4 separate regions of the Homo sapiens genome follow, and regions 1, 2 and 4 are each reported to be linked to region 3. The links are microRNA targets in miRTarBase. Many come from high-throughput screens and were not tested one by one. Region 3 holds a microRNA gene; each other region holds the end of a gene's coding sequence.

What was found. Region 3 holds the annotated microRNA hsa-miR-3689a-3p (CUGGGAGGUGUGAUAUCGUGGU, at 3,623-3,644, opposite strand). A microRNA usually pairs through its seed, bases 2 to 8, with sites in the 3' UTR of a target mRNA and lowers its output. Matches are read on the target gene's strand: a 7mer-m8 pairs with bases 2 to 8, a 7mer-A1 pairs with bases 2 to 7 and ends in A, and an 8mer does both.
Region 1: the mRNA of EXTL3 is a reported target of hsa-miR-3689a-3p. Seed matches in the 3' UTR shown: 7mer-A1 at 605-611 and 7mer-m8 at 4,999-5,005.
Region 2: the mRNA of MMAB is a reported target of hsa-miR-3689a-3p. Seed matches in the 3' UTR shown: 7mer-m8 at 4,032-4,038 and 7mer-m8 at 2,099-2,105.
Region 4: miRTarBase lists SCNM1 as a target of hsa-miR-3689a-3p. Seed matches in the 3' UTR shown: 7mer-m8 at 722-728 and 8mer at 888-895.

What each region holds. Positions count from the first base shown.
Region 1 is chr8:28,750,311-28,755,684 of GRCh38, forward strand. It overlaps EXTL3 (exostosin like glycosyltransferase 3), which reads left to right. Exons shown (of 7, transcript NM_001440.4): 7 at 347-5,289. The coding sequence ends at 556. Among named protein-coding and RNA genes, the nearest start is that of EXTL3, 51 kb to the left of the region's middle. RefSeq lists enhancers at 1,463-2,407, 2,408-3,350.
Region 2 is chr12:109,552,602-109,558,024 of GRCh38, forward strand. MMAB (metabolism of cobalamin associated B) reads right to left here. Exons shown (of 9, transcript NM_052845.4): 9 at 1,114-4,535. The coding sequence ends at 4,427. Among named protein-coding and RNA genes, the nearest start is that of MMAB, 18 kb to the right of the region's middle. RefSeq lists an enhancer at 5,037-5,423.
Region 3 is chr9:134,845,704-134,851,126 of GRCh38, forward strand. It overlaps MIR3689C (microRNA 3689c), which reads right to left and starts at 3,666; the gene lies at 3,595-3,666. It overlaps MIR3689A (microRNA 3689a), which reads right to left and starts at 3,861; the gene lies at 3,784-3,861. MIR3689D1 (microRNA 3689d-1) reads right to left here and starts at 3,979; the gene lies at 3,906-3,979. MIR3689B (microRNA 3689b) reads right to left here and starts at 4,569; the gene lies at 4,422-4,569. It also overlaps MIR3689D2, MIR3689E, MIR3689F and LOC101448202. RefSeq lists an enhancer at 1-82.
Region 4 is chr1:151,168,611-151,173,610 of GRCh38, forward strand. SCNM1 (sodium channel modifier 1) reads left to right here. Exons shown (of 7, transcript NM_024041.4): 7 at 376-1,686. The coding sequence ends at 475. It overlaps TNFAIP8L2-SCNM1 (TNFAIP8L2-SCNM1 readthrough), which reads left to right. Exons shown (of 7, transcript NR_144937.2): 7 at 376-1,686. TMOD4 (tropomodulin 4) reads right to left here. Exons shown (of 10, transcript NM_013353.3): 4 at 4,889-5,000; 5 at 3,658-3,747; 6 at 3,023-3,153; 7 at 2,823-2,930; 8 at 2,310-2,453; 9 at 1,909-2,053; 10 at 1,377-1,493. The coding sequence ends at 1,471. Among named protein-coding and RNA genes, the nearest start is that of TMOD4, 4.9 kb to the right of the region's middle.

The sequences.
Region 1 (5,374 bases), not on the chromosome of region 3:
ATTCAAAACATTGATGAAACAAACAACTCGGTACCTACCTATGGCTCTGCAACCAAGTACATACTAGGAGTAGACTTACTGAGACAGCTGACACTACACACGTTAAGGCTTTTGGCATCTGAGAAGCGTAGGCCATCTCAACAGAATACCTGACAATGTTCTGGAGACATCTGGTAGGCAGGAGGCCTGGGGCCGGGCTCTGGTTCCTGCCATGCTCTGCAGGGATGTTGCCCCTGAGGGGATCAGCGTCTTCACCATGGACATGGGAGTGTGGGATCGGCTCAGCTGCAAGGGTTCTGTCAGTATTAGCTGGGATTCCCACTCTGTCTCTCTCTCCCGTTTCCAGGTGACCTCACGGTGGACATTCCGATGCCCAGGATGCCCTCAGGCCCTGTCTCATGATGACTCCCACTTCCACGAGCGGCACAAGTGCATCAACTTCTTCGTGAAGGTGTACGGCTACATGCCCCTCCTGTACACGCAGTTCAGGGTGGATTCTGTGCTCTTCAAGACACGCCTGCCCCATGACAAGACCAAGTGCTTCAAGTTCATCTAGGGGCAGCGCACGGTCTGGGGAAGAGGATGAGCAGAGGGAGGAAGATGGCTCCCAAGGTTCCTAGGCATTGCAGGACCTTGGGCACATCTGCTGGTGGGTGGCCCAGAGCCTCTGCTGGAAGGGGCAGCAGGAGGAGTGGAAGGAAACCGCTGCCTTTATCTTGAAGTCAGCCACACTGGGCCTGGAGCCCTGGGCGGAGTCCCCGGGGTTCCCCACACAGGGCACTGACTGATAGCTTACACTGAGGACTGTGGCGACTCTGCAGAGTCACTCACACCGTTCGTACGCCCAGGACAGCTGGTTCGTGGTTTTTACATTCAATAACAACTATTATGATTATTTAAAAAGAGAAAGTTTCAGATTTGCCATTCAAGGCTTATTTATATATATGTGTGTGTATATAAATACATGCACACACTTGCATACATATATATTTTTGGCTGGGGGAGTGTGAGTTTTGCCTTTCTAAGGGAGGGACCGCGCAGGCTCCTTTGTTCTGTATTCTGGCGGAGATGGGTCCTGGCCTTGTGTCACTGGCTTATCCTTAAAGATCATCTCCCATCCTCCCCAGCGCCATCTGTGTGCAGCAACCAGAAAGGGATGAACTTGGCCCTCTTGCGGGCCTGGACAAGGTCTCTTCCTTACCCTTTCTGTTGCCAGTCAGCAACCTGTAACTCACATTCTCTTCCCAGTGAATCCCTGGGAGCGCCTGACCCTGGTGGGCTGTTCAGCTTCCTGCTGCTGGGGCCAGCGATTTTTGAGGATTTATCTTTAGGCCAGGCTTGCCTCCGTACTTATCCCTGCTCTCCCATTTCTCTCTTGTTTGAGAGAGAATGAGGAAGCAAAGAGTGAGAAAGAATAGGGGCTGAAGACGCCACTCCCAGATGGCTCTTTCTATCCTGCTCTTCTGTTGAAACACACGTGCTGTGGGCCTCAGGCGTTTCTGAAGTGCTCTTTCTTGGATTGGACAGGAGATCAGCAGCGTGCACATCTGCTGTGGTCTGAAGTGGTTTGCAGGTCAGCCTCCTCTCCCTAGTGTAGAGCAAGCCAGTGTCCTTCGAGGAACCCACCCGGCTGGCCGGGAAGTTTTACAGCAAGGCGCCTGCCTTGGGATAATTCCTTGGTGAAATTCACCTTCCCCCCGCCTCTGTCTGGAGCCCCATCCTGTGTTATCTGTGGTTTTTGGACCCCTAATGTCAGCTTGGCTGTAGGACTCCCCGAGGTTTGGTATGTGCTAGAACAATGGGAGGCTGTGATTTGCTGTGTAAGCTCACATCCAGCCTTGGAATCTAACGGGCATTCACAACCCGAGTTACCACTTTCCACTCCCTGCTTAGGATTCTGTTCCCTGGGCTGAAACTGAAATAAGCTAATTTTTTGGGTCACGGTGGCAGTAGGGGAACCTAGGAGGGTGTGAGTGGCATTTGTCAGGGATTTAGCCCATGACGTGTTTCTTGAACCCTACTTTCTGGAAGTGGAGTTGACTCTGGAAGTTTTCTAGCAACTGAACAAAAGCTCAGGTTTGTCCTGGTCATGCACATGCCTTAAGCCAGTTCCGTCTTCCCTAGACCTTGGCATCCTGTGCTTCTATTTCTTGGAATACGTTCTCCTCTGACCTGCCTGTACCACGTGGGTCCTCTTCAAGTACTGTTTTGAAGCTGGGCTCTTTTGTGTAGCTCCCACCCACCTGTAGGGCTAGCTCGGCTTAAGGGAACTCTCCCCATTGGCAAACCGGACCCGGCCGCCGCCAGGACTGTGTTTCCAAAGGTTCCCCGCCCCCAACCCCAGCATCAGCCTGTAGCTCCCCTGCTGAGGCAGTGTGGTTATGTTCCCAGCAGTGGGGGTCAGACGCCCTTCCTCAGAACTTTCTAGTTGCCCTCTACCTGACTCCTGACTTGTATTCCTTTTAGCAGTAGCCTTCTTCCCTCGGGGAGCCAAAGAGTGTGGTGTGTGGCGCTATATTGTGGCTGCTATTTCATCTGGTTTCTTTTAATGTGAGGAACTCACATACTGACTTCAGTGGGACTCGGTGAGCCGGGGCCGTCTGTGTGGTGGGACCCCCTTTAGCGGGACTCAGTGAGCTGGGGCCGTCTGTGTGGTGGAGCCAGGGCCTCTCCCTTTAGTGGAGCCAGGTTGTCGGGCCCCGAATGTCACTGGTGGATCTAAGAAGGGCTGAGTGGTCTGACACCAAAACATGCCGCAGGGAGGGCTGTGGTGCCGGTGCTTCCAACAAGGACAGCCCTCCTTGACCCTGAAAGGAACACTGGCTTGAAGGACTGCAGACAGGCTCTGAGGGGCACGCCCTCCTCAGCGAGAGGCAGCAAGGTGGCCACAGTGTCACTGGTCAGGTGCTTCTCACCACGGGAAAGCCGCCGACCTGTGACTCGCTTGAGATGGGAAAGCGGCGCCACAGACCCCGGGTCTCCTTGGCTGTCTGTGGGCCGCCCCTGGCCACCTTGTCCTGGCTCGCAGGGTGCAGGAGCGCCTCGTTCTCTGGGTGGCCGGCTTGCTGCTCCGGTTTGGGCTGTCTTACCATAACACCGTCCCAGGGCTCTGCAGGCCACTGTGAGCGCTGGCTCCCTGGGCAGTGCTCCTCCGTGTGGACTGTGCCTCAGGCCAGGGCTCACCAGCTGGGGTCCTGTCCGGAAGGATGGGATCTTTCTGGGAGCTGCGCCGGACAGAGTGGGGAGCTCCTAGTTTGTGGGGGGAAGCTTTGATATCCATGCCACGTCCATCCACCCCACCCCTTTTCGTCACGAGCACAATGGTCTTACATTGGATTTTTGTAAAAAAATAAAAATAAATGGAGACTTTAACTCAAGCAGCTTGGAGGTCTTTTGTGGTTTTCCTCAGCAAGTATGGAAGAGTGACCTGAGAGAAGGCACCTGCTTGATTGCTTGATTCCAGGTCGCCACCTGTGTATGCCAGCTGGGCCTGCTCGCAGAAGACGATGGGAGGCAGCCTGACCAGGCCCTGGTGTGGGCTGTGGACCAGAGATGGGTGAACAGACTCACACTCACATGGGCAGCCTTGCCTGTGCCCGGTTCCAGGGCAAGTCATTTTGACAAAACAGGAACTTAGGGGCTGTTGAGGTGCTTTAAGCAGGATGTGGAAGGGCATGTGGCCCATATATGCAAAGTTAATTTTTTCATGGGAATTTAAAATGCGTGTGTGTGTGTGTGTGTGTGTGTGTGTAGTGGTTGTGGGGAGCTGTGTGTGCCTGCGATCCCAGGACAGGTGAGGCCTCACTGTGAATGGCTCGATTCGGTCCATAGGTCATGCCCCTGACCTATAGGTCACTAAGGCACCTGTACCTGCACCGAGCTGACGCTCCCTGACTGCAGAGCCCCATCCTGTTGGTGCCCACAGGCCTAGATCTTGTGCTTGGCTGTGGGATCAGAGGCTTCCTCAGGAGAGGGCACTGAGCTGTGGGCTTCGGGGAGAAGGATGGAGATGGGAAAGGGGGTAAAGGCGAGGACTCCTCTCCTGGGCTCTGCAGGTGGCAGCTTTGGTCACACTGACAGTCCTAAGAATGGGTGAGACTTAACAGTCGGTGTCCCTCCTCAAGTGGGGTTCACGACTGATCAGGCAAGTTTGCAGCAGCTGATGGGTGAGATGTCATCGAGGGGCATTCCTCTTTGGGTCTGGAGTTTTGGCTGTCAAGCTCCTGTTCTTCCAGCCATCCATCTCCATGTTACGATTGTCCTGGGACCAGAGAGACTTGAGAAGGTGGCATGAGGCTGTAGAAAATGTGTCTTCCTATACACAGAGATATGATGTCTGCTTTGAGTCTATACCTGTCGAGTTGTGTCTTGGACTTACGGTCTGCCAAGGTGGTAAATGTTAGCTGTTGATGGGATCATCACTGAAGTGGAAGGCTCCACAAGGTTTACAAAATGTGTTAAGAAGAATGTTGATGGTGGTGTGTGGTGCCTAACATCTTAATCTCAGCATTTGGTGAGGCAGAAGTGGGAGGATCACATGAGGCCAGTTCAAGACCAGTCTGGGCAACATAGCAAGACCCCCATCTCTACAAAAAAATTAGAATGTTATGAAGATACTGAAAAGAAGAAAGGAGAATGTAGTGGGTAAAGGTCTGGGCCCTGGAACAGACTGGGTGCAGATCTTGGGCTGCCCATCACACTGGTGGAGAGCAAGTTATCTATTACTATTTTAGGCTCTAATCCCACCATACGGTGGCAAAAGTTGTGCCCATCTCTTAAGCATATGTTAAAAGTTAAATAATATAATATACGTAGAGTCCACTGTTTGACACAATAAAAATGAACTATTACTGGAGTAAAATAGTGTCCACTTCTTCATGGCTCTTTCTGCCTTCCGCTAGGTTTGAGCGCCAGCGCCTGGCTGAGTGCCCTGCTCACCTCCTATTAGAGCCCCCACGCTCTGTCGCCTCACCATGCTGTGTGCTGGCCACTGCTCTGCCTCCCACACCGGACTGCAGCCTCTCAAGAACACAGGAGTTCCATAGTTTTCTCATGAATGAATGCTTTGACAAAGTGAAGAGGGTCACTTAGAAATCACAGCTTAGGCAAATTGTTTTACCTTTCTTCATCTGTCTTGACGTTTATGAAAGAGTACAGGCTGGGTGCGGTGGTTCACGCCTGTAATCCCAGCACCTGGGGAGGCCAAGGCGGGTGGATCACCTGAGGTCAGGAGTTTGAGACCAGCCTGGCCAAAATGGCGAAACCCCTTCTCTACTAAAAATACAAAAATTAGCCAGGTGTGGTGGCACGTGCCTGTAATCCCAGCTACTCAGGAGGCTGAGGCAGGAGAATTGCTTGAACCCAGGAGGCGGAG
Region 2 (5,423 bases), not on the chromosome of region 3:
ACCTGTCTCCCCCACCCACTCAGCAAGCCTGAGGGGCCAGAGGTGCTGCCATGCTGTCCTCAGCGTCACCTGGGGATGAGCTTTTAGAACGTGCTTTGAAAAGGGTCAAATATGATTGAACAACAATAGCTATTTTTTGGAGCTGCTATCATGTCTGGGGCCTGTGGACTTATTTCTGAACTCTTGGAAATTGGTATTATTATCCTATTATAAAAGATAAAGAGGCTTTGAGTGGTTAAACCATTTGCTTAAGGAGATGCTGGAAGTGACAAAGATGGAATCTGAATTCAAATAGTAGTAGTAATAGCAAACAACTGTAATAACAGGAGCTAATATTTGCCAGGGGGCAATATTACTCTTTTAAGTATTACCTCATTAAACAATCCCAGTGACCCATGGGGTGGATGTTATGATTCCCATTCTATAGGTGGAGGAGCAAGACCGAGACAGATGGAATGACTTGCCCAGTCACCAAGGCAGGAGGTGACAAAGCTGGCCTTGAACCTGAGCCTGCCTGGGGCCAGTGCCCAAGCCAGCTGTTTGACAGTCCTTCCCTGCACCCCACAACCCTACAAGCATCAAAGGTCACCCAGCAGCCTCTCCCAGCCAGCCCCAAGTGCATCTTCTCACCCTTCCAGGCTGGAGCTATCTGACCCTGAAACAGGCTGCTGAAGGCAGCCTTGGGAATCCTGACTTAGCTCCCGAAGAGGGTCGCATGGGTTCTCTTAGAAAAGGGATTCTTACCGGGAGGTTCCATGGACTTCCTATGACTGGATGCAAACTTGTGAATATGTGTGTGTGCATTCCAAAGGTGACAAACCACAGCTTGAGAAGTTTCTGATTCTGTGGAATGGGAGAACACGAGGGATGTCCCCAAAGTTTCTAGGTCTCCGCAATCTGCCTGTCCCTGCCTCTGTTGGACTTTAGCACTATCTTCCAGGAGGACTCTGAGAGAAGAAAAGCAATAGGCCAAGGCAAGTTAAAACTGTGCCGCCTGCCTCTAGCTGGACTGACTGCAAAGATGCATTTATTCCAGCTTGTGTCAGTATTGCCAGAAGATTCTCAGGCCCCGCCAGAGGGGAGGGATGAGCCACAAATCCTTCCAGGCACTGATTTATGTAGCATTCATGCGGAATTTATTATACAAAGAATTTTATTCAATTAAACTTGAAATGCATCTGGATTCTTAAAGGTTCAGTAGTGATCACTGGGACAGGGCGATCATAAAACTGAATGGGCTGTCGGAAGGTGTCGAGGCAGCAGCAAGGGTGACATTGCCACTGACGGGGGCTTCCGAACTGGGGACGTTTGTCATTGGGATGTGTTACAAGTTCGGGCTGTGGAAATTACTCGATGAAAAACGCACATTAACGATAGCCATGAAATATTAGTTAAGGGAAACTAGGTTGAGAAATGAGACAGCAGGATCTATCAGAGCCTGGCATTGTTCGCCACAGCCCAGGTAGTGATTAAAACGACTGTCAAGCGGCAGTGGGTGGGAGCTGAGGAGCACGGGGCTGTGAGTGACGAGGCCGCGTCCGGGGCTCACATCTTGGCACTGACTCCCCAGGACAACTTGGTTCCCCACCCAATGCCTCCTTCCAGGGCTGCTATGGGGTTCAAATGAGATAATGTCTGTGGAACACTTGGCTCAGGGCACTGCACATAGCAAGCCCTTCCACAGTGCGGGCTGGTGTCACTGTGACTGTGGGCTTCTCTCTGACACAAGAGCCAACTGCCAGCTTGTCTCTGGAAATGACACTAAACACCCCATTCCAGGGAGCCTGACCTGGAGGCGGAGGAGGCATTTTCATGGGTGCAAAATGTAAGGAAGTGCCCACAAACTCAGGGATCGAGTAGTATTTGTGTGCAATATTTTCCAAAATCAAATTATGAAAAAAATCTACGATAAGCAAGGGATCACGACTTTAAATAAAAACAGGCTGCTGTTTGTTTCAAAACCCCGTGTTCCCGTGCAATGGGACTGATTGTTTCTGAGAGTTGCCAGTGGTGTGCAAACACTGGGGCAGCGGGGGCTTCGCAGTCACATTTCCTGACTGTAGGGCTTTCATTAACTTTTCCCACCTGGTTCAAAATATGGGAGGACATTTGCTCAGTGTACAGAGGGGTACACATCTTTTCTTTTGCCTCGGGCTCTTGATAGAGCTTTTGAAAGGCACTGCAGAAGAGCAAATGTTTTAAACACCCCATCCTTCCAGCCCCCAAAGCAAGCTTTCTCCATTTTTCCCAGGTTGGTAGCACAGGAGAGAAACACCTGCTGAGTGGTGGCATCTGCCCTGCACCCAGGTGGTTTCTCAGAGAAGTGTTTGCTGGTGAACCGGGAGACAGATACAGAGGCGGGGGTCTGAGAACGCGACTGTTAACATCCAGGCTGTGACACCCGGTCCTGGAAGGACAGGACTTGGCAACAGGTGAACGGCCTTGTTTCAAAGATTGTCACTTTAGGATGTTGTATTTACTCAAAAAGCTTTCCTTATCCTTTGGAGGCTGTGCTTTCCCATGGCTAGGCATGCAGGGCTGCTGTGTTATTTTATATATATATATATATTCCAGGAAGATTTTGAGATTTTGAGGTGTAGACAGAATTGAGTGATTCGCTGCAAGCTCTTTGAACATACTCCCTGACCGAGCCTTAGTGATTGCGTTTTCAGGGTTTTTTTTTTTTTTTTTTTTTTTTTGTGACGGAGTCTCACTCTATCAGCCAGGCTGGAGTGTCGTGTCACGATCTTGGCTCACTGCAGCCTCTGCCTCGTAGGTTCAAGTGATTCTCCTGCCTCAGCCTCCTGAATAGCTGGGATTACAGGCACCCGCCACCATGCCCAGCTAATTTTTTTTTTTTTTTTTTTTTTTTAGCAGAAATGGGGTTTTACCATGTTGACCAGGCTGGTCTCAAACTCCTGACCTCAGGTGATCTGCCTGCCTCGGCCTCCCAAAGTCCGTTTTCAGCTCTGTTTTGCAAACACTGAGCACCGACTCCGTACCAGACCTGGTAGTGACGATGGGGGCAGGGAGGCACGGAACAAAGCCACCTCCTGGAAGGCATTCACACACTCCTGGTCATCTGCACCTCACCCACCCTGCCCAAGGCTCAAGAGGGCCATCACAGCCTGTCAGCAATGAAAGGACCCAGAAGACACAAGTGAATATACCTGGCCCTCCTGCAAACTTTGCAGGCCAGGTGGTAAGAATGAAGGCAAAAATATGCACGTGACTAAGAAGGTAATGTTTGCTGACTTGCCAGCAAGAAAGATGGCCGGAAAGACCAGCTGTCCCGAGCCTAGCGCGGTGGCCCATGCTAAGCAGCCACTCAGTCAATATGTGATGGCTGAATGGAGTTCGCCAGGCATTTCAGCCCTGAAACTGGACAAGAGCCTGCCCTTCCAAAGTCATTTCCTGCAATTAGCAGCCTGCAGTCTTTAGGTTCTTGGGGCTGCCTCTTCTGCCCTTCATAAATATTGCCTTTCCCAAGGACACTGCTGGCACTGGCAGTGTCGTTTCATAGCAGGAGGGAGCAGCAGTGACAACTGAAATAAATACAGCCGTGGCACCGATCTCAGAGGCATAAGCCAGCCAAGTGCAACATCGGAGAAATCAGTCTGGTGGATGTCAGCCTTGCTGGAAACTGACAACCTCATTTTCTCAAGCTGAAGATGCTGCACCGCAGACCCTTGACTCAGTCCAACCAGACAGGGAATGTTCACCTTCAAGTGGTAGTGTTGTTCTCATCAGCATCTCCATCCCTTTCAGAGGGGGTCCTCTAAGCTGCACCCCCATCACACACACTTCAATCTAAGCCAGGAGTTTCTGAGCCTCGCCTGTCAATCTGCAGCTATCCTTCCCCCACACTTTGGCGGTGATGGGTGGCTCAGAGGTGACTAAACTTCCAAATCTTGTCCGCCTTCCCCTTTACAAATGTGACATTTAAAGCACCTTTGGCACAGGTAAATCACAATTACATTTTCAAGGGCCTCTGGTCCCATTCCAAATCTGTGAACAACCTGAGCTGGCAGTGGGAGGGCTCTCTCTCACACACACACACACACACACACACACACACACACACACACACACGGCTCCAGCCTTTCCAACTTTTATTCCTTTTCCGCACAGCTCCTTCTCATTGCAGCAATCACTTTACCTGTCTTTCCTGCAATGCCAATTCATTCCCACATCCCTCCAAGACCCAGGAGAGCTTGGGGAAGCAGGGTCAGGGACAGAATCCCCAAAGGGTCACAGTCCCTTGAGGAAGGTGGCAAGAGGTGTAGATCAAAGCTGAGCTGGGACAAAAGGCTGCTTTGAGCCTCTCTGGGTGAGCTCTTCAGGAACCAGGACCCCAGAAGGGCAAGCTCCTCTCTCCACGGCCATCGCCATGGAGGGATCCTCCAAGCTCCCACTTTCTGTGATTTCAGAGTCCCTCAGACTCGGCCGATGGGTCATTTTTCATGTATATTTTCTCTTGATTCCCCTCCTTCATGGCTGCATATCTGGCTAGCGTGAAGAGATAGTCACTGAGTCTGGAGGGGCAGAGAGAGAGAAGCAAACAGAATGGTTTGAAATGAGAGATCAACGCTAACTGGGTCTTCCCATATCCGCCTACAAGGAGGAGATATAAATGACGCACTCTGGGCACATTGTGCAGGGAGGGCGGGGGCCCAGCCATCTTGCACTTAATGGATGGCACACGAGGCCAGCTGCTGTGAATGCCAAGGACTCTACTCCAGTGTCAAGGCTGGGGCCATTCCTGCAGGATGAGGCCATTGCCCCGGCCCTACCCCATGGGGCAGATGACTTTGGACTCCTCTCTGAGCCGGTTTTTGCACCTTTGAGTGATCAGGGCTCAGGTGCGTGATCAGTTTGGGTGTTTCCCAAACTACAGTGTGCACAGGCATCACCAGGGGATCTCAGCGACGTGCAGATTCTGACTCAGGAGGGCTGGGCTGGGCTGGGCCCGGGGCTCTGCAGGTCTAGTTCCTGCCCTGGCTGATGCTGACACTGCTGGACTAGGCCCTACTGACATTCTGGATCATTCTGTGTGTTCGGGGCTGTCCTGTGCATCCTGTGCAGTGTAGGATGCTGACAGCACCTTTGGTCTCCACCCACCAGGTGCCAGTGGCACCCCTGCACCCAGTGTGACAACTAGTAATGCCTCCAAACATCGCCAAAGGTACCGGGTGAGAAGCACAGGCTGGAGCACTCTAGAGACCAGAGCCCAGCCCCTTTCCCGCCTCCTCCTTTGAACCAACAGCAATGGTCATCTGTGCATGAGGCCTTCTGCAGGGGCAGCAGTGGAGGGAACTAGAGGACGACGCCACGGGCCCCAGAAGGCGCTTACGCTGTCAGCTCTTCTGCCTTCTGCTGTCCGCACCTTTTGCTGTTTCACTCCCAGCACGAGGCACCACGTT
Region 3 (5,423 bases):
GAGGCGACTTTCACAACAGAAGGGTGGTCTGCAGCATTGCCCAGGGAAGCTGGGGCCATTGTGAGAGGATGGGAGGCTGTTGACCCATGTCATCCACAGGCAGAACATTGGGTACAATTGTTTGATCACTGTGATAGCTCAGAGGTAGATTATGAACTCATAACTTGCAACCCTTGGGGAGGAGGCTTGACATGAAATGATGGTGGGCAGGCTGGATGCCTGAATTCCATGTGGCAAGGTACCACGTGGCAGACCAGCTCTGGAAAGAGCCAGGAATGAAAGGAAACGGCCCACGAATCAAGGATGCGCAGAGTTGGAAGAGGCAACCGTTTCCCAACATCAACTGTTTAAAGACCACATTGAGAGACGCCTTGAGGGACAAACGCCAGTTAAAACTCAGTCGTCATGAATTTGAGCAGCCCACCCCTTTCTTAAAATCCTGGAGTAGATTAGGATGGCGCCTAATAAATGCATTTGAGTTGGGAAAGCGACTCCGGCAATGGACGCTCACAGTCGTCAAAGGTTGATGGGTCTGAAGGTCCTTGCCATCGAATCCAGAAGAGGAGAGAGAGCAAGGCAGGTGGGCGGACAGTCGGCGTGGTGCCTGCTGGTGGAGCGGCCAGAAATGCACAGGTGGGCAGCTGATCTGTCCTCCGGAGAGGCATCCTGCAGAGGGGCCCCAGCCTGGTCTGGAGGAGTCAGTGGCTCAGACTCACAATGACCCTTTGACCATCCCAGGCAGCAGGAGGCTTGAGGTCCACTCGGCCGGTGGCTGAGCCATGGCACAGTTGTGGCCCAGAGTTGTGGGACTCCCCTCGCACCCGTCATGCAAGGGGACTCCCACGATTTCTCGGGGTTGTAGGTGACAGCTCTGGGAAGTTTCCTGGGGAGAAGGAACCCTGGAGGGAGGGTGCATGCCCCCAGTCTGCCTTCCTTGCCTTCCTCCTCCCACTGGCCCCAAGGAGTTCTGCCACCACATCCATTCATTCATCTGTTCATCCATCCATTCATCTATCCATCCATTCACCCTTTCATCCATTCATCTATCTATCCATTCATCTATTCATCATTTATCCATCCATTCATCCATCCATCCATCCATTCATCCATTCACCCTTTCATTCATCCATTCATTCATCCATTCATCCATCTATTAATCTATTCATCATTTATCCATCCATCCATCCACACATTCGTTCACCCTTTCATTCATCTGTTCATCCATTCATTCATTCATCCATCCATTCATCCATCTATTCATCATTTATCTGTCCATCCATCTATCCATCCATTCATCTATCCATCCATCCATCTATTCATCATTTATCCATCCATCCATCCATCCATCCATCCATCCATCCATCCACTCTTTCATTCATCCATTCATTCCCCCATTCCTTCAGTGGCAGTTCATTGACCACCTGCTGTGTGCCAGGCGGGAGCAGCAGGGGAGAACCCACCCTCAAGGAGATGCCACTCCAGGGGACACGGGCTGACCAAGACCCACAAGGCAGGGGTAAGGTGTGCCCAGAGGAATGAGACCTGAGGAAATGTAAAGGGGAGGAGACAATGTGCATGTGTGTGGTTGTGTGTGTGTGGGGGGGGTGATGTGCATGTGTGTATGGCACGTGTGTGCATGTGCTATGTGGTGTATTTTGCATGTGCTATTTGTGTTTATGTGAAGTGTATGTGTGTTGTGTGTGTACCTGTGTGTGTGGTGTGCCTGTGTGGTGTGTGTGTGTGCCTGTGGGGAGCTGTGCCTGTGTATGTGGTGTGTGTGCCTGTGTGTGTGGTGTGTGTGGTGTGTGTGTGTGTGGTGTATGCCTGTGTGTGGAGGTGGTGTTTGTGCATGTGCCTGTGTGGTGTGTGTGCTGGCGTGTGTATGGTATATGTGTGCGTGCCTGTGGGGAATGTGCCTGTGTGTGTGGTGTGTGCTGCATGTGTATAGTGTGCATGCCTGTGTGTGTGGTTTGTGCTGTGTCTGTATAGTGTGTGTGTGGGTGTGGTGTGTGTGCCTGTGTGTATGGGGTGTGTAGTGTGTGTGGGGTGGGGATTGAAGTGCTCTCCTGGGTGACCAGGGCCACTGGGAAGGTTCTCTCTGCCTGGAGCCCAGCGGGCAGGAAGGGCTTTGCAGGAGAGGGAACAGCAGGGCAGAGGCCAGAGGGAGTGGGGAGAGGAAGGGGAAGTGGGAGGGGGCTGGTGTGGCCTGAGCAGAGATGGGGAGGGAAGCCACACGGGGCAGTAACCCAGACGCAGGCTGGGGGCGGTGCAGACCCATGAGAGTGGGTCACACTCCGGCTCCAGGTGTTTCAAAGATGGGGTTGATGGGATTTGCTGAGAAGAGGAGGTCGAAAGTGAGACGAGAGAATTCCAGGAGATGCTCAGCCACAGGCATGACCCCCACAGTGCCGCAGGAGCACACACACACGCGCACACACGTTTACCCACTGACAGCTGTGGCCTGGTGAGACCAGGCTGAGGACAGCTGCCTCAGCGACCCAGGCTCAGATGCCACCAGTGCCCCATGTGGCCTCGGGGAATCTGCTGCTCAGAGCTCCTGTCTGCCCATTTGCACATGGGACCCATGAATGGAGGAGGCACTCTGGCCATGTGGCCAGAGGCCCCGCTCCTGTCCTGCAGATGTCTTGGTGACGAAACCCGATCCATGCATGTGGAGGAAGGTGGGGGCATCCCTGGAGCTGGCCTGTGCCAGGCCAAAGTGCTCCTTTGAGCTGCCCAGGGCTGTCCTAGTGAGTGTCCTCAGGCTCTGGCCACCCAGGAGGGCCAGGGGCGTCTGCATTCGGGAGTGGGTTGGAGAAGGGGACGATGGGAGAGCAGGAAGCTTTTGCAACTGCTCCAGGGCCATTGGGAGGGTGCAATTGGCTGACACCCGGAACTTCATTGATGCTTACCCCACGTGCCCTCTGTGTGGGTCCCGCTCCCAGTGCGGACACCACCTCCTAGCTCTCACTAGCTCATGCAGGCCTCTGGGGCCCTCCTGAATCCACACCTCCCAGGGCTGGGTCCTGGTTGTTCCCCAATGGGGAGCTGTGCCTCTCTATCACCAGCAGGCATGTGATCACACCTCCCAGGAAGCACAGGATCACACCTCCCAGGAAGCACGGGATCACACCTCCCAGGAAGCACGGGATCACACCTCCCAGGAAGCACGGGATCACACCTCCCAGGAAGCACGGGATCACACCTCCCAGGGAGCACGGGATCACACCTCCCAGGGAGCACGGGATCACACCTCCCAGGGAGCATGGGATCACACCTCCCAGGGAGCACGGGATCACACCTCCCAGGGAGCACTGGATCACACCTCCCAGGGAGCACCGGATCACACCTCCCAGGAACCACGATATCACACCTCCCAGGAAGCACAGGATCACACCTCCCAGGAAGCACAGGATCACACCTCCCAGGGAGCACCGGATCACACCTCCCAGGGAGCACCAGATCACACCTCCCAGGAACCACGATATCACACCTCCCAGGAAGCACAGGATCACACCTCCCAGGAAGCACAGGATCACACCTCCCAGGAAGCACAGGATCACACCTCCCAGGAAGCACGGGATCACACCTCCCAGGAACCACAATATCACACCTCCCAGGAACCACGATATCACACCTCCCAGGAACCACGATATCACACCTCCCAGGAACCACGATATCACACCTCCCAGGAAGCACGGGATCAGACCTCCTGGGGAGCACGGGATCACACCTCCCAGGAAGCACAGTATCACACCTCCCAGGAAGCACGGGATCACACCTCCCAGGAACCACGATATCACACCTCCCAGGAAGCACAGGATCACACCTCCCAGGAACCATGATATCACACCTCCCAGGGAGCACAGGATCAGACCCCCCAGGGAGCACAGGATCACACCTCTCAGGAAGAACAGGATCACACCTCCCGGGGAAGACGATAGCACACCTCCCAGCGAGTGTGAGATCACACCTCCCAGTGAGCGTGGGATCACACCTCCCAGGAAGCATGGTATCACACCTCCCAGGAAGCACAGGATCACACCTCCCAGGAAGCACGGGATCACACCTCCCAGGAAGCATGGGATCACACCTCCCAGGGAGCACCAGATCACACCTCCCAGGAACCACGATATCACACCTCCCAGGAACCACGATATCACACCTCCCAGGAACCACGATATCACACCTCCCAGGAACCACGATATCACACCTTCCAGGAAGCACAGGATCACACCTCCCAGGAAGCACGGGATCACACCTCCCAGGAACCACGATATCACACCTCCCAGGAACCACGATATCACACCTCCCAGGAAGCACAGGATCAGACCTCACAGGGAGCACGGGATCACACCTCCCAGGGAGCACGGGATCACACCTCCCAGGGAGCACGGGATCACACCTCCCAGGGAGCACGGGATCACACCTCCCAGGGAGCACGGGATCACACCTCCCAGGAACCACAATATCACACCTCCCAGGAAGCACGGGATCACACCTCCCAGGAACCATGATATCACACCTCCCAGGAAGCACAGGATCAGACCCCCCAGGGAGCACAGGATCACACCGCTCAGGAAGAACAGGATCACACCTCCCAGGGAAGACGATAGCACACCTCCCAGCGAGTGTGAGATCACACCTCCCAGTGAGCGTGGGATCACACCTCCCAGGAAGCATGGTATCACACCTCCCAGGAAGCACAGGATCACACCTCCCAGGAAGCATGGGATCACACCTCCCAGGAAGCACAGGATCACACCTCCCAGGAAGCACGGGATCACACCTCCCAGGAACCACGATATCATACCTCCCAGGAACCATGATATCATACCTCCCAGGAAGCACGGGATCAGACCTCCCAGGGAGCACGGGATCACACCTCCCAGGAACCACGATATCATACCTCCCAGGAACCATGATATCACACCTCCCAGGAGGCATGGGATCAGACCTCCCAGGGAGCACGGGATCACACCTCCCAGGAAAGCACGGGATCAGACCTCCCAGGGAGCACGGGATCACACCTCCCAGCGAGTGTGGGATCACACCTCCCAGGAAGCACAGCATCACACGTCCCAGGAAGCACGATATCACACCTCCCAGGAAGCACAGGATCACACCTTCCAGGAAGCACAGGATCACACCTCCCAGGAACCACGATATCACACCTCCCAGGAAGCACAGGATACACCTCCCAGGGAGCACAGGATCATACCTCCCAGGGAGCACAGGATACACCTCCCAGGGAGCACGGGATCACACCTCCCAGGGAGCACGGGATCACACCTCCCAGGGGAGCCACAGGTTCTTAATGGGACAAGGCCAGCGCTTAGCAGAAGTGTTCCTGGTGTTTCTTGGTGTCTGCCCATCAGTGGCCCCCACCTGGCTGCCTGTTGAAGTCATCCGGGGAGCCCCCT
Region 4 (5,000 bases), not on the chromosome of region 3:
TTGGTCAGGCTGGCCTCGAACTCCTGACCTCAGGTGATCCACCTGCCTCAGTTTCCTAAAGTGTTGGGATTACAGGTGTGAGCCACCGCACCCGGACTCCCATTGTTGTTTTCCATCTTTGGTTTCGTTTTGTTTTAGCCACCCAACTTACATGGCTCTCAATTTTTTCTCACTGCTAACTTTTTTTTTTTTTTTTTTTTTTTTTTTGGTAGAGACAGGGTTTCACTATGTTGGTCAGGCTGGTCTCGAACTCCTGACCTCAAGTGATCCACCTGCCTCGGCCTCCCAGAGTGCTGGGATTACTGGTGTGAGCTCACCACTAACTTCTTAATAAGCCTCTTTCCTGATCGATGCTATTTTCTCTGATGTTTCCAGCTCTGGATGGATCCCAGATGGACGAGGTCGATGGGTAAAAGATGAAAATGTTGAGTTTGACTCTGATGAGGAGGAACCACCTGATCTCCCCTTGGACTGATACCCTTTTCCCATTCATTCACAAATAAATTACAATGGGTGCTGAGAACTTAACTTTCCTTAAGTCTGGTTCCTTGTTGGATCTCAGGATTTCAGATCTGTTCATTCTCATTCCAACTACTCCTTGCCTGCAAGGTACACAGCTCTCCACACTCCTTTTTTTTTTTTTTTTTTTTTTGAGGCAGAGTCTCGCTCTATCGCCCAGGCTGGAGTGCAGTGGCACGATCTCGGCTCACTGCAAGCTCTGCCTCCCAGGTTCACGCCTTTCTCCTGCCTCAGCCTCCTGAGTAGCTGGGACTACAGGCGCCCGCCACCATGCCCAGCTAATTTTTTGTATTTTTAGTAGAGACGGGGTTTCACTGTGTTAGCCAGGATGGTCTCGATCTCCTGACCTCGTGATCCGCCCACCTCGGCCTCCCAAAGTGCTGGGATTACAGGCATGAGCCACCGCACCCAGCCACGGCTATCCATACTTCTAACCCCTCCCCCACCTCCTACCAAAGCCATGCCAAGCGTCAGCTGCATCAGCCTGGTGCCCTATTAATAAGACTGTCAAAAAGAGGTCTTTGCCCTTCATGTTGTCTGCCTGCTTCTCCACTACCACTCAAAGTCCTTTCCCCCTTCAAATCACATAAGGACTGCAGGTAGGCACTAGGGGGACCTGGCCACATCTGGAAACAGGGCTGTGGCTAAGTTCCCTGTGAAAGTAGAAGAGTCAAAAGGCATTGGCAGGGTTATGGGGAACACCAAGGGAGGGAACACCCCCACCTCCTCCTAGTAACCTGAACCTCCCTGCCTGCTGATCCCCAGAGTATAAATAATCCCCTGGTGAACTGGCAGTAACCCTTGGGGGTTAGCGCCAAGATTCTCACCCCAAAGCCCAAGGAAGGAGGCAGGCAAAATGGATAGAAGGGCTTTTATTTACAGGAAAGGAGGACAGATGAGGATTTAAGTGTCCAGTGCTCCCAGCGCTAGTTGGTAAAGGGAAATGCAGTGTTATCTCTTCTTTTGCTGGCGACCTGTAAAGGAGCAATATTAAACATAAGTGTTTGTTCCAGCTCCTGCTTTCTGCAAAGGCACTCTTCTCCTTTCCAGTCCCTTAGCCAAACTCATAAATTGGTAGTGTCTTAGGCCACCTTACAGGCCCATCCCACATTAACAAAACAAAACAAGAAACCACACCACAAATAAAATTACGATACCTCTAAACAAGTATGATTATCTCTGGCATCCTTTCTACCTCTCTACTGGTCCATATTTGGGGCAGGGGGAGTTTTCTGTTTACTTTCTGATCACTCTTGGGATTTGAAATTCTCATATGAATAGCTCTTTGGTAGCACCCTGGGCTGTTAGTCATTAGGTCTGCTTTCAGGAGGATCCACCAATTTCTGCACTTCCCTGACCACTCCACACATCATGTCTGCAGTTACTCACGTAGTTCATTGTTTCGGGTCATGGCCTGGGCTGCCCGAGCTCGTGGCCCCTGCTGTGTAAAGTGGTAGCCAAAGCGGACAATAGAGGGACACTGCTCTAGCACGGTGGCCATCTCCATCTCCACTGCATCACCAGGCCACTGGCGCTGGGGGAGGGAGAGGCAAAAGCTGACAGTCACCCTCTCTGGGCTGTTTACCATCCCACATCACAGACCCCTTTGGGAGGTCAAAGAAGCTTGTTTCTCCACAGTGGGTGAAGAGAGATGCTGACTTGGCTTCCCTCACAGAGACAATGAAGAGGAGAATTCAAGCAAGATTAAGTAAGATAGCTGCCCCACTGGCTGGCTCAGGGAGGAGACTCAATGAGACTGAATGCTAACATCAGGGGAAGGGAATGCTGACCTGATTGTCTACACGGAGCTCAGTGAGTGTGGCATTTTCCCGAACTGCCTTCAGCACAGCCATGAGTCCTGTGCTGCTAATGAAGTTGGATTCGATGTTTAGGCTCTGGAGGCTACGATTCTCACGCAACATGTCAGCCACTGCCTGGGTAGTAGGGACTTGGGTTAGGATTAGGGAACAGTTTCACAGATGACTGAGGAAAGAAAGAACAGGAGCAAGAGGGAAACACAGCTCTTTGAGAAGAGTCTTTCAGGTGCTGTAAATGGAGCTAGAGGGATACAGAAAGCAGGGCGGATAGCAGGGGAAAGCAGGGAGATGAATGTGCAGTGGGACTAGGGGTGTTAGAGAGAGTAGAGAGTTATGAGCCATAGCACTGAAGGTAGGAGTCTCCATGAGGGCTGCCCTAAGAAGGCATGATGAGAATAGCACTCCCTAGCAAAACCCTTTATGACAGCCATGCAACAGGTGCATGTAAGATGTGGGGAGAGGGCTGGGGATGTCAACTAGCCTTACATTGGCAATGGGGTCACCACTCCTCGTGGCTACCAGACTGAAGCTCCGCACATAGGTATTTGCCTTCATTGCCTCACACAGCTCACTTAGCATGGGTATTGGGATGTCCTATCGGAGGGGAATAGGAGATGGTGGGCTAAGGGACTCTCGGATGTCAGTGGTTATCCGGTGTTATGGTTTGGAGGATGCAAGTCAAATACCTGTATATTATTCAAGTTCACCTCCTCCAGCTCCTTGTCATTGCTTCGGACCCTCTTTAGTATCTCCTCAATGTTTGTGGGATTTGGGGGTTCATCCGGCACTGGCTTATACTTGTCAGGCTGTACCACACCTGGTGAATGAGGGCAGGAAGGGAACCCCAACATGTTCCCCATAATCTCCTCCCCATTGGTTTTCTTTTCTTTTCTTTTTTTTTTTTTTTGAGATGGAGTCTCGCTCTATCCACCTAGGCTGGAATGCAGTGGCACAATCTCAACTCACAGCAGCCTTGACCTCCCGGGTTCAAGAAATTCTTGTGCCTCTGCTTCCCAAGTATAATATCTGGGATTACAGGCATGCAACCAGCTAATTTTTGTAGTTTTAGTAGAGACAAGGTTTCACTATGTTGGCCAGGCTGGTCTTGAACTCCTGACCTCAGGTGATCCACCTGCCTCGGCCTCCCTAAATGCTGGGATTACAGGCATGAGCCACCTCACCTGGCACTCCACAGGTTTTCTTATCACTCATGCAGCATGTCCTCTCCCAGAATCATCAATTTCACCCTTTTCTACCTTCTCCCAGACACTAGGACTGCCTGCCCAGAGCCCTGGGGACCATGCTCCCCAAACACACTCACTGCTAATGCCTTCAGTGTTGCAGATTTCTCCACTGCAGAGGGCATCATAGTATTGCTTGTTACTCATCAGTGTGTACATGTCCAGAATTGCTGGAGAGGGTAAGAAGAGGAGTCACAGGGAATGAGAAGGAACCTGTTCCAAGCCTCCCTCCTACCTATTTCTGAATCTGTTGCATTTGTAAAGCCTGACCACTTACACTTTGCCAAAGAAGTTTCCCACCCTCTTTCAGCCCCAGGGGTCCTTTCCATAAACTTCTTAAGGCAGTAGTTTCTAAAACATTGAGAAAGGGCTAAGGGAAGGTCCCTTATGAGCCACTAGAGGATAAAGGAGTCTGTAGAGACTCTCCTCTTTCAGCCAGAATGGTTCCACTTTTTTTCCCCCCGAGACGGAGTCTCACTCTGTCCCCCAGGCTGGAGTGCAGTGGTGCGATCTTGGCTCACTGCCACCTCCACCTCCCGGGTTCAAGCAATTCTTCTGCCTCAGCCTCCCAAGTAACTGGGATTACAGGTGCATGCTGCCATGCCTGGCTAATTTTTTTTGTTGTTGTTTTTGTTTTTGTTTTTTGTTTTTTGAGACGGAGTCTCGCTCTGTTGCCCAGGCTGGAGTGCAGTGGCACTATCTTGGCTCACTGCAAGCTCGGCCTCCTGGGTTCACACCATTCTCCTGCCTCAGCCTCCCGAGTAGCTGGGACTACAGGCGCCCACCACCACACCCAGCTAATTTTTTGTATTTTTAGTAGTGACGGGGTTTCACCGTGTTAGCCAGGATGTTCTCGATCTCCTGACCTCGTGATCCACCCGCCTCGGCCTCCCAAAGTGTTGGGATTACAGGTGTGAGCCACCGCACCCGGCCAGTTTTTTGTATTTTAGTAGAGACGGGGTTTCACTATGTTGCCCAGGCTGGTCTTGAACTCCCGAGCTCAGGCAATCCTGAGTGCTCCCAAGTGCACTCAGGCCTCCCAAGTGCTGAGGTTACAGGTGTGAGTCATGGTGCCTGGCCCAATGATTCCACTTTTATTTGCTCTTACAATCCCTGTAAAATTGCTCTTGAGGTGTTATTAAATTTAAAAATGAATAAATATATAAACAAACAAGAAAAGCTTGAAACTACTGCTTGACGCTTTCTTAGACATCCACATTCTGGTTGAGGGCCTTCCTCACTAGTCCCATGTCATGGCTAGAATCCACCTGCCCCTGATCCTCTCACCCTCAACTTCCCACAGCTACCCACCTGCAATGTCACACATTTCAGCATCTGTGGCATGTGCCAGTGCCTCCTCCAGCTCAGGCTCCAGGGTGATCTGCTCCTCTGCTGGGATTTCCCTCTTGGGCTGAATATAGGG